Homo sapiens: one gene and its partner. The protein of the gene in region 2 purifies or fractionates together with the protein of the main gene of each other region. This does not show direct contact. Each region holds a gene or a part of one and is shown on either strand. Other genes may lie near its edges. The genes, in order: PPIG and ZMYND11.

Evidence for each region.
Region 1: the proteins of ZMYND11 (region 2) and PPIG purify together in Homo sapiens (affinity purification with mass spectrometry, with the first as the bait; 2 studies listed by BioGRID). This does not show direct contact.

Annotation. Positions count from the first base shown.
Region 1 is NC_000002.12:169,636,228-169,642,023, reverse strand, and holds the end of PPIG (peptidyl-prolyl cis-trans isomerase G), read right to left. Parts: coding exon 5,796-5,796; intron 5,612-5,795; coding exon 4,501-5,611; 3' UTR 618-4,500; downstream 1-617. UniProt on the Homo sapiens protein: PPIase that catalyzes the cis-trans isomerization of proline imidic peptide bonds in oligopeptides and may therefore assist protein folding. May be implicated in the folding, transport, and assembly of proteins.
Region 2 is NC_000010.11:236,426-243,665, reverse strand, and holds part of ZMYND11 (zinc finger MYND domain-containing protein 11), read right to left. Parts: intron 6,829-7,240; coding exon 6,751-6,828; intron 6,082-6,750; coding exon 5,989-6,081; intron 4,229-5,988; coding exon 4,141-4,228; intron 3,611-4,140; coding exon 3,555-3,610; intron 2,774-3,554; coding exon 2,696-2,773; intron 1,646-2,695; coding exon 1,527-1,645; intron 1,073-1,526; exon of another isoform or gene 1-1,072. UniProt on the Homo sapiens protein: Chromatin reader that specifically recognizes and binds histone H3.3 trimethylated at 'Lys-36' (H3.3K36me3) and regulates RNA polymerase II elongation. Does not bind other histone H3 subtypes (H3.1 or H3.2).

The DNA of each region.
Region 1 (5,796 bases), on a different chromosome or scaffold from region 2:
GGAGTTTAATAATATTCACGTGTTAACACATACAAACTACTGAATGTTCAGAAGGTTTTTACCTAGGTATATACCTTTCATTGTCAATATTCAGTATAACTAGGCATATATTTTCAATGACGCACTCTCAACTAAGTGCATTTTCCCTACATGTCTAATGTAAGAAAAAACAGCCCCCAAACTAGGTAATGTTTTACAGAATTCAATTAACATTTATGTTTACATGACTTCACCACTCTGTTATAGGCACAGGATCTATTACAGTGATCCTAATGCTGAAAAAAATGCGGAGGACTTAAGAAGCAAATGGTAGTGATCTAGTAGACAGTAATACAAATTCCGAGCTTAACCTTGAAAGTTTGCTGGGCAAAAGACACACTACAATCTGAAGTATTATGATTAAATATTTACATTAGAACATTCTCAAACCTGGAAATTTTCCCTGCTGGCTAAATTCTTAAAGCTCAGTATTGTTAAAACTTTGTTCAGTTTTTTCATAATGTAAATACCTGTATATCTGAGAGTAAAAGTATGTTTTAATTGGTTTATTTTCATTATTTAGCTTTTAATTTTTAAAAGGCTGGATAATACAATTTAAAAAATACAAAACCAAACTGTTTATTATAGTATAGTTTATTTAATACAATGTTTAACTATAAAAGTTAATACAGCTTCCAAGTTTCAATTTTGTAAAATGCAGTTTGCAGAAAAGTTCAACAATTACTAGACTAATGATAAGAGAAGCAGCATTTTGAAACTAATTTTACAATTGAGAAGACAACAGCTTTTTTTCTAAACTTCATTAAAAAAATATAATCACAGTGACTTTTGGGCTAGGAAAAGAAGTGCATTAACTTCATTTATGTTTTTTCCTTCCACAAAGAGAGCGGCCACAATTTTGTACATCCCACATACAAATACCCAATTCATTTATCTTTCAAAATACTATATACACACAAAAGGGGAAGAAAATATACAGCATGTGCTTTTGGTAACATATGGAATTTGCTTAAAGAAAAAAAGTCAGAAACACAAATCCACCCCACCACTCCCTCACATACCTTTTAAAACAAACTAAACCCCTCAACAACTCCCTACTCCAACCTTGTTGACGGAATTTTCTTATTCATGTCATTTTTCTTTTCCTTTAATATATACCTCTTTGTCACACAATAGGCCAAAGACTTTGCACTTGCCCGAATCCACTGAAGGCAGTTAGTTGGGAAGCTCACTATGGGCAGTTGTGCCAGTCAATGCTGTACTTCCTGGGGGCTTATTAATTTTTAAAACAAGTATTTGTAACAAAACACATCTTTTCACAATAAACAGCTTATCAACCTATAATCCTTATTCAATTGTAAATGTATAAATCCAAAATGAAATAATTACAGTAAACATAATCAAAAGGAAACAGAAGAACACCCATTTTGTTTCTTTATAACAAATCAGCTATGGTAGGTATTTAAAGTACCTTCTGGTGAAGGCAAACCCAACAAGCTTCTACAGAAATTTAGTATAAAAAGTTTAGTGTGATGAAAACTATATTACCAACTGGAATGAAGTACAATAAACTACTAACAAACATACTAACTTGCTACATATACTAACTAAAATAAATTAGAATTGTCAAGTTAATACCACTACCCAAAATACCAGAGATCCAATATGTGCCTATCCATAATGAAGAGTTCTTTAATTGTTTAGCTCCATACCTTCCACTAGGCACAAATATCAAAGGTCATTCCGCAAAGCCGTCCATGCATCAGTATCACATTTGTGCAAAGGCAGATTTATCAGATAAATTCTTTGCAACTTCTGAGGGCTTCAATTAAGTAACTTAAAACTATGAACTTACCAACTATGTAGTAATTTAATCAAAGAATGTTTTAAAGCAATCCAGTAGCTTCTCTACTGCTCATTTCATTAACATTAATCTCACCATAGTGTCAATTTCTGTGGCAGATGGCTTACCCAGAAAAATAATTCATACAAAATAACCATGAAAATTCTACATATTGAAAAAATTTTCTCAGCTATCACCAATTGAGCAATAAATCAGTTTAAATATTTTTAAAAGGATATTAAGTCAAAAATACTTTGACATGAACCATAAATTTAGACATAACTATAAAACCAACTTGATGGGAAAGTAATAGTTGACTTTTAGGAAAACAATGTTCAAAGCAAAAACTAAAGATGGCACAACTACTAAATGTAACAAAAGGAAAGGACCATTTGAGCCGTGTGCTATTCAGATGCATGCGCAGATCCTGAGGTACAGTTAATGCTGTTTAATCATTTTAAAAATGTTCTTTATATTCTAAAAATAAAATCTAGTTGATTGTCCTCTCAACTCCTTCACATCTGTTCTGTAAAGAGAGCTAATAAAACTTTAAAATAAGGACTATAAATAATGCGGAGCATGGAGTTGCTCTTTTGATAACCCAAACAGAATATTGCCTATAGAAATTACTACAATTTTTTTCCCTATGGTTACTTTTTGAAACTCTAAGATTTGGAAATCCTTATGTATAATTTTTAGTAGATAAAGCTCTGGGATCAGACAACATGTAAGAATTTTTACTTAGCATGGACTTAAAAAAAATATTTAACTGTTATTAGAAATCCTTTCTTAAATAGCACCTTTCTTAAAGCTCAAATAGTTTATAACAACAATTTTAAAATGCAGTTAACTGAAATTAAGACAAACAATAACTTGCTTAAACTACATAACGTTATATAGCTTGGGCACTCAGACTCAATTATCCCTAATGTGGGTTTGTGGTCAGTCTCTAAGGAATCAATCACCTTGGATTTTATAATAAACATCTACTACTTTTATCATCGGAAAAAAAAATTTTGGAAAGAATTCATTGTGGATATCTGTATTACAATTTTCCAAGCAATCTTATGGTCATTACACTATTCATTCTGCAACAGCTACCACAACGCCAAATATATCAATATTGCATTAATCAATAGTGGGAAGTATCATGTTAATAATTGCTTTATTCAGTACAAATAGCATTGAGTAGCTACTGGATTTACCAAGAAGCTACCTTGGTAACAGAGTTGACACTACACTGACAAATATTAAAGTACAAAACTCTCTAGAGAATCCTATTAATTGGAATTTTGAAATTCCTTTTCAAATGAGGCAGGTTTTATGTTTGCTGGATGTTCAATGTTTTATTTAGAAGAGATTACAGAATAAAAGGCCACACATCACAAAAATGGCAAAATACAACACCCAAAACTCTAAATGGACTTTGGATATGTTTAGTGTTTAACTCTGTAAACTATCAAAATTTGCAACTTTCTACTCTACTCTATATGGCAATGTTATACATGCCAAGTTAAAATAACATTAACAGTAATGGTATAAAACCACCTGAAGAGAAAGAAACCAGAGTCATAAACATGCTATAGCCTATCGTGATACATATATAGAAAAGATGCATTTTCTTGCCATTTGGAACTCACAGCTATGAGAGTTAGAGAAGTCAGTTCAATTAAAACAAACAAAATCCATGCAGAGTTAACACTCAATTCTATATAGGTTGGAGGCCAAAAAAGAGAAATCTTAGAAGTTAATGTCTCAATACTAACAATTTTTAGAATCTGTATAGCTTAAGGACCTGCACAAATGGTATGTTTTAATGAGAAAAGCTTTTTTTTTTTTAAAGTTTAGAGAAGGGTAATTAATAATTAAAACGTTCCCAAAACTCTTCAAACCAAAAGCAACACAGAACTGAGAATCACAATCTGATTTTCCAAGGTATAGTTCCTGTCAAATGCTGTATAACAGCAACTCAAGCTCAATCAGTACATCAACTGAAAAAAATTACTCTTACGATTTTTATAGGCAGTTAAGTAAAACACAACTAGACAGGAAAAGCATTAATAGGAAACAAGCTATGGCTCGAACTATAAAGAATAGAGTATGAAGTGCAATATAAATACATCTATTTTAAAGCACAAATTACTATAAAATCAAAAGTGATGATTTAAGATCTCAGGTTATTAGGACCCTGCTTCTGTGTAATTAAAAGAAACCGCTGCAAACCTCTATTTATAACGCAATCAGAAAATCTATACAAGATGTCTTCTAGTGGCTTCTAAAGTTACTTTAATCATGAGAAACACAAGCTTTTGCAACAATGCATTGCAACCATTCCAAATGGCTGACTAAACAAATTAGGATGCTATTGGCTAATTGTTGCAACACAGTAATGCATACATAAAATAGTTAAACACAGCACACAGTACTACACCAAAGTGTTTTTCTCATGTCGAGTTTATTAAAACTTTAGCAGTACAAATTATCCAGATTGCAGATTATCAAAAAATCAACTCAATGAAATCCACATTAAGAAAAAAAAGGACAAACATAAAACAATCCAAAAACAATGAAAAGGAAAACAACATAAAGGAGATTCATTAGCAAGTCTCTCAAACTTAAAATCCGAAACAGAATGGAAGTAAGTTTATATAACTCACTCATCCGCTTTTGTCTTCATCTGTTCCAGGGCTTGATTCATGATCAAATTTTTTATTTTTTTCATGTACATGGTCATTTTCTTGACCTTTTGATTTTTGGTTTTCTTTTTCCACTGAGGATCTGATCTTCTCATCCTCCTTATTTTTCAACATGGAGGACTTTAATTCATTGTCCTGACTGCTTTGTTTTATTTTTGAGAAGGGACTTTGATCTCTATCAGCCTTTTTTTCCCTGCTGTTATTTGAGCTATTATGATCACGACTTTTAGAGTACATTCTTTTCTCACTCTCAGAATTTTCTTTTCTGTGTGAGCTCTTACTCTCTTGGTTTCTGTATTTGTCTTTGTTTCTGCTTTGACTTTCTTCTCTCTCTGAGCTCCGTGAGTCTCTCCTCCTTCTCCTCCTATCTTTACTTCTTGATCTTCCTGGTGGTGTTCTTCTCTCTCGGCTTCGTGACCGTCCTCTTCTCCTGTATTCCTGTTCTCTGTATCTATGGTACTCCTTGCTTCTGCTGCGATCTCTGTCATGGGTTCTTGATCGCACTCTTCTGCTTCTGTCCCTACTTCTGCTTCGTTCTCTTGTTCTGCTATTATAACTGTGTTTACCTTTAGTTATATCACATTCTCTACTCCTGGATTGTGCGCGTCTATCCTTTTCCTTACTTTTACTGTGATCATGCTCATTACTCTTTGATTCTAACTGTTTAGACTTCTCTTTACTTCTACTCCTTTCCTGATCTTTTCCTTTAGAATCAGACTGCTTTTCTTTTTCTTTAACATTTTCATGATCCCTTCCTTTACTCCTTGACCTCATCCTCTTTTCTTCATTTCTATTATGTTTTGAATCTCTTTCTTTACTCTTTGATTTCTCTTTGCTCTTACTCCTACTTTTAGATTTGGCCCTTTTCTTCACTTTGTTTTTATACTTGTCATCTTTTTCTGAATTTCTTCTGATGTCTCTCTCTTTGCTGTTAGATTTATGGTCTTTAACTTTCTTCTCCTTTTCATTTTTTCTGTTTGGACTCTCAGATACATTCCTGTGATCTGTTATTTTTCTCTCTTTTACTCTAACTGGACTTCTCTGATTTTCTTTTATTTCATTCAACTCACTCCTAAAAAATAAGAAAAAGAATTGGGGAAATGTTATTAGGAAAAGAACTGTAGATATTATTAGCTAAAATGATATTCTACTTTTCTTAAGGTATTCAGCAATAACTAAAATGACAATAACTTTATGTATAATAGTAAAAGCAAACACTTATCATTACATTTGAAATAATAATAGTTAAATCTTACT
Region 2 (7,240 bases):
TCTCGATCTCCTGACCTCATGATCCAGCCGCCTCGGCCTCCCAAAGTGCAGGGATTACAGGCGTGAGCCACCGTGCCTGGCCTAACCCAAATATTCTTTAAAAATATTTTCTGCATAGTATACTGAATGACATCTAACAAGTTAACTCATTATTAATATCACTCATGGTTGAAGACAGTATAAAGCTACTTGCAAGTTGATGAAAAAGAAAAATATATAGATAAAAAGTTCTAATTATCAGATTATTCTTACCTATTAGTATGGCTATAAAAATAACTGAATTCTTGTTTTTTCTAAGTTAACTGTGTTTTATTTAATGTGAAAAACATTGAAGCAAACTTTCCCCCGTTATTCCTTGAATATCTGTTGTATTATAAAAGCTGACATTTATTGAGTACTCACTATGTGCTAGGTACTATGCTCAGGTCTCTCTGTAGCAACATTTCTTTAAACCTTACAAAAACTCTTATGAGGCCTTTATTTTGCTAAGGCTCAGAGAAACTGACTAATGTATCAAGATTAGGGTAGAAGACAGTGAAGCAAGAACACAATCTCACATAAAGACTTACCCTAACCTACCAAAAATACATTATTTCCTTGCCTATTCTGATAAGAAACTGAAACCATCCGAGTATGATGTATTAAGCATATGTTAAAAATTACCACTTAATGTAATTAAAACATTCATTTTGTATTGAGTTATTTTATTGGATCATTATTTAATGTTTCTTGACATGACAGTGTCAGGTAAGTGTGTATCTACCTATGAAAGAACAGAACTACCTTCTGGGAAATTTACAGTATTTATAGGTTTCTTATAACTACACTTCTGTTTAAATTAAATTAATGAAGACTAAGTAAAAATTTACCACAGGGAGGAGTAAGGTCCCTCATTGTGTAGCTTCTCTATGCACTAATAACCTCCTGGCATGACAGGAGACACCTCATGGACTGTTCATTTAAATCCTTACAAAGTATGACTTTTAGATCATGTAGCTGGTTTCTGTCACTTTTTCACCTTATCTCAATATCTGTGTTAAATGAACCAAATAAATTGCATGTGAATTCTTTATTCCTATTATGGCTTATTTCCACGCACGCTTCAGGTATTTACACACATTGTAAGATCACAAGATTGACGATTTTAGTCTATATGTCTTTAACTGAGCCTTGAAGATGGCTGGAGCAACTAGAGTAACTGTGAATATGGTAATGGTAATTCCATTACCATATTATGGAATGGACACATTCTGAGGCCCTTCTGCCCACTGTACTATAAATTCAGTCTTAACCGTAATGTGCTTCTGAAGTTCAACAGTGTCAGTTATTAAAAATTCCTGTTTAGTACACAATATCTGAAAAATATCTGGAAACAATTTATCTTGGAACGTATTCTTGGATGCATAATGTGTTTTTTTTTTCCAATTTAAAATAAACTTCATGCATCTCTGATGGAGAAATCATCAAACTTTCTTAAGGACTTCATAAGCACAGCTGTGACCGCTGAACATGGGATCACAAATTACCTCTGGTGGTGGTGGCCAAAGAAGCGAACGTCGACTTGATTGTCTTCTTTCTGCATGACTTTGGCTGGCCAAAACCCAAAACCTTTCATTTTAGCCCAAACCAGCTCATGATTAGGTATCTGGAAATTAAATGTTTTACCTTGTTATATTACTTTTAAAGTATTAAATGCAAGTGTACCATTAATATTAAACTAGTCACATATAATCCATTATTTCTAAAATATTTCTTTCATAACTCCTAAACACATACGAGATTTTTTTTCTGGGATTGACTGATTTTATATTTGCATCAGAGTGCCAACATGAACCTTATTCCTCAGAAGAGGTCGGGACTGGAGCAAGGCCATCCACATGTATGACGGTGGCAAACAAGAGCACCCGCTTGGCCAAGTGCAGCTGGGGAGCCAGCAGCTCCAGCACCCCTGGGAATTTGTTAGAAATGGGGAAATTTTAGGCTGGCACAGTACTGTCTTCACAGGGCTGGCTTCTCTCAGGCAGCCAAGGCTGCCGGCCAAGAATGCTCAGAATTCCCTTTGTCAGTGCACGGTTTGAAGCTGTATTATTTTGGGGAAATTATACAGCTACAGACAAAGGCAAAGCCTTAGGTCTCTTGTGAAAGGATGAAAGGAGAAACAAAAATTCACTTTATTAAGGGACCCAGACGCTGGGTGTGGTGGCTCATGCCTGTAATCCCAGCACTTTGGAAGGCCGAGGCGGGAGGACTGCTTGAACTCAGGAGTTTGAGACCAGCCTGAGCAACATGGTAAAACCCCATCTCTACAAAAAATACAAAAATTAGCCAGGTGTGGTGGCGTGTGCCTGTGGTCCCAGCTACTCTGGAGGCTGAGGTGGGAGAATCACTTGAGCCTGGAGGAGGTCAAGGCTACGGTGAGCTGAGATCACACCACTGCACTCAAGCCTGGGCGACAGAGTGAGACCCTGTCTCAAAAAGAAAAAGGACCCAATATTTATTTTTATTCAGTATCTCATTTTAAAATCAGAAATGGATAACAAGCCCTGTTACTTTTTTTCAGTTGTTTATACTCATTAAACCCATATATACTATGATATTTTAAAAATTTAGGAAGAAAATTATAATCTTTAACCAAACTGGAAATAAACTTCCTTAGAGCTGTATGTTACACACTTGAGGTAAAAATTTCACATACACAAGGATAACAGAACCAGTTGTCAGGACGAGCATTTGACAAGTAAAAGCAATTCTTGCAAAGCTGCAGTTCATCCAGCTGAAAAAGAAAAGAAACTACTTTAGCCTACATAAAATATACATACACATTAAACTATATAAAATGTATCCATGTAAATTAACATTCACGTATATAAATAGTGTTGAATTTTGTTTCTTAATCTTTTAAGCCTAAATTTTAAAGTTTTCAATAAATGGTACTGGAAGACCCTGTCACTGTCCTCTTAGAACCATGTCGCTGGTCTCAGGCCACAGTTGGAACAGAAGCTGAGGCTGGTCTGACTGGGCCCTGCCCGGACCTCACTGGTTAGCACTTCAGACTGAATATTCCTCAGGAAGGTAACAATATCTGCTGCCAATCACAGCAGTCCTTACCTTTGCCTCATGTATGTCAAACATGAAAATAAAAGACCTTTTTTTGTTTTGTTTTGAGACAGAATCTCATTTTGTCACCAGGCTGGGGTGCAGTGGCGCAATCTTGGCTCACTGCAACCTCCACCTTCCACGTTCAAGCGATTCTCCTGCCTCAGCCTCCCGAGTAGCTGGGACTACAGGCGTACACCACCACACCCAGCTAATTTTTGTATTTTTAGTAGAGACAGGGTTTCACCATGTTGGCCAGGATGGTCTCGATCTCTTGATCTCGTGATCCGCCCAACTTGGCCTCCCAAAGTGCTGGGATTACAGGCGTGAGCCCCCACGCCCGGCAATAAAAGACATTTAAAGGAAATGGCACAACTAAAATGTAGATAAGAGTGGAATCCTGAAATAAATTAATTTCAGTTATAGAAAGAGTATAACTATTGGGCAATGAATAGTACCTCATGACATGTGTCTTTATATAGCATCCTCGCAATGTCAGCTTGCTCACTGTCTGCTGTAATTAAAAATAGATATTACCTATAAGCAATAGTCTGCAAATACAAGACTCAAAGTTACTATCCTTTTCTTTCAGTTTGCAAAAGTAGACATCTACCATTTCAAACCAAAATGTCCATTTAAAATAACGATAGCAAAATAAAATTACACAGGCAGCTTTTGTTTTCCATCCAATACAACCACTAATTCTCAGGGTATAGAGAATGACCTTACCTTTGGATGATGTGGTACTAGTGGGGAAATGATCAGAATTAATCATAGTGCTTATTAAAAACCTCTCAGCTAAAACAAATACATATAAAACTGTAAAGAGTAATTGTGTTTTCATCATTTAGTATACTATGATTTTGTTTTTGGCCAGTCCATTCTATAATCTATATCACCAGATATTCCTAACCTTATACTCTAAACTTGTAGATCATTAAGGTATTAATTCTTTGAAAGTAATGTTTTATAAAAGATAGTGTTCAACATGGAATGTAAATGGTGTGTTTAAAAATGCATACAAAAAAAACAAAAATATTCAACCTCCATAGAAAATCACGGTATTGTGGAGAAGCAATTGGGCATCAGCTTTGAACTCTTCATAACTTCGGTATTTCCCTTCATTCACTTTCTGCAGAGGGCAAAAAACAGAATGACGAAAAGAGTTACCAGTAAAAATACTTGTCTGGACTAAGTTCACAGGACAAGCAGTCTTTTCTAGGATGACATCAGGATGACTACTGCCATCCCACAGTATTGACAGAGAATGTGTGTAAAAGAAGCCAACAACGCCACCTGCGGTTTTAATAATATAGTATAATGAAGCATGGCAGGTCAGATATCCCGCAGCCACAAAGACACTACATTAATTTATCAGAGTGAACTTTAATGGCTTGAACATCTCATTTGACAATAATGTAGAAAGCTGCTGCTAAGCTTGGTAGTGCACGAATGCTTGGGCCAGTGTGGGCGGTGAGACCCTAAGCACACACCTGTCATTCTTTACAACACAGGAGGATCGAGATTGAAAACAGAACTGTTAGCCTCTGTGACAGTTTACCATAACTACTAAGATATATTTATAGTTCTGAATTGGGGCTAGGAATTGGTTTATAAATAATTTTAAAATAACATCTCAGGTGTCCCTGTCTGTGACAAATCTTAGAGGATTTCAACAGGAAGGAACCTGCATGAGTAAAGGCAGTGGGGAAGAAGGGGCGTCTGGGTTCTTACATATTCTGTAGAGGTCTTACAGTTTAGAAGGGGCTATGGCTGGGGGTAGGAGGTAAAATTAAAACTACTTGGTTTTGTTCCAGGATTTACCAGTTACTTTAAGGGAAAAACCTTCATTTACCCTTATCTTATATTGAAATAATACAGCCACAGTCTTTCTTGGGTACTAAAGAAACTTGTGGCCGGGCGCGGTGGCTCACGCCTGTAATCCCAGCACTTTGGGAGGCCGAGGCGGGCAGATCACGAGGTCAGGAGATCGAGACCATCCTGGCTAAAACGGTGAAACCCCGTCTCTACTAAAAATACAAAAAATTAGGTGGGCGTGGTGTCGGGCGCCTGTAGTCCCAGCTACTCGGGAGGCTGAGGCAGGAGAATGGCGTGAACCCGGGAGGCAGAGCTTGCAGTGAGCCAAGATCACACCACTGCACTCCAGCCTGGGCGACAGAGTGAGACTCCGTCTCAAAAAAAAAAAGAAAAGAAACTTGTAAGATGATTTAAAATTATTCCTGTGGTCTCCCTATAGGCTATAATGACCAAGCGTTAAGATTTTAAATTTCCAACATGACACATGAGGTGCAAAATCAGTAATTCAGTAACCCTGACTGCAAATATGTCTACGTGTTCTACTGGATGTTGTTGCAATTTGTTACTGGACGTGAACAAACTAACAATCCTCAGCTATAGTTGGTAAAATTAAGACCTTTAAGAATAATTAACTTTTCTAATCATAATTTTTTTTGTTCATTTTATTGTTTCCCAAGACGGCAGATCAGTTCTATGCTTTACTTTTTTTTCTGAGAGGAACTCTCAGGTACCACTGCTAAACCTGGAAAACATTCTTTACATCTGAAATGCTAAATTGCCCAGGCTGTAAGGCATTTTCTTAAATCAACAAGGATCAAGAAGCTACAAGCTGCTCATCTTTAAAACCAGGCCTTTTAAAGATGACACCTAATTTGCATTAGAGTAAGCACATGAAATTTACAAATTAATAATGCTTCATTTGGTAGTTATGCCTGTCTTTTGTTTTAGGAAGTGGAAAAAAGTACACTTTCAAGGAAAGAAGAGCAACCAAAATCTGCTTAACTGCTACATTATTCTTTAACTTGTTAGTTAAGAAAATGTACTTGAAGTGGAAATAAAAGAAACCGACTTTACCTCTTGAATGGTGGGAACGTCCACAGCTGAGTGCACCAGCCTCCTGTACATCGGGTGTTTATTGTCCTTCCCCTTTTTATTAAGATCTATAGCCTAAGAGGGTGTTAGTACATCAATTTAAATGTGGTTAAAGGAAGGCAGGTAAGACATCAATTCCTAAAGCTCAAAATATTTTCTACCTTTTTATTTTTTATTTTTGTAGAGACAGGGTCTTGCCATCTTGCCCAGGCTGGTCTTGAACTCCTGGGCTCAAGCAATCCTCCTGCCTTGGCCTCCCAAAGTGCTGGGATTACAGGCGGGAGCCACGGCGCCCGGCCAATATTTTCTACCTTTAAAGCAAAATCTCAGAGGAAGTACTTTAAAACTTAACAGAAAAAATGTACATATACTACTATATAGTTTAATATGACATTCCTTAAAGTTGTGATAGAATAGTTATTTTGAAAAATTGCCTTTCATTTTAAAGAGTCATCATCAATGAAAATGTTCATTCTGATGAATGAAATTCAAAAATGTAAATGTTTCTAATCTCATGTAGCTTATGTCAAAATGTCTATGTCCAAAACAGACAAAACAAGAAAATCTAACTGCCTGTTATAGAACTGTTTACTGCAAAAAAGAAATATGACATGACGGGGTGCTCTCCACACTTCATATTGCTATGTACATATTTGTTACTTCTCGATCATTCAACTTTGAAAGAATGAACCATAGTAAAATGTGTTTTGGGATATTTTGAAAGATTCCCTGAGCAGGACTCACCCTCTCCTTCATGCGGGAGACAATGAATCTGAGGTATGTGCCCATCTCCTGTTTGTTTGTATTCTTCTTCTTAATGCTCTATTGAAAAAAAAAGAATAAAAAAAGGTACAAAATCTGATCATTCTTATGTCTATATTCATGTAAAAGACATATATGAAACACTTAGATAGTATGCAAAGAGTTTACTAAAAGTGCTCTTTTTCCAACATATCTGACAGAAATCTTTGACATTTGCATAAAAAAAACAGCATCTAATGTAACAAGGTGAGAACTTTAAAATATTATGTTGTACCTGATATAATATCCTTACAGGATTATATATTTTTTCTTTTCTTGGTATTTTAAAACTTAATTTTTAGATAAACAAATAATAGACATAAGGGATAATCGCTTATTTTACAAACAATATCAATGGCCTAAGTCCTTTGAGGGAACATCTTAAATTAGCAATAATGAATGGTGAATTTCAATACAACATTATTCTTCGTTT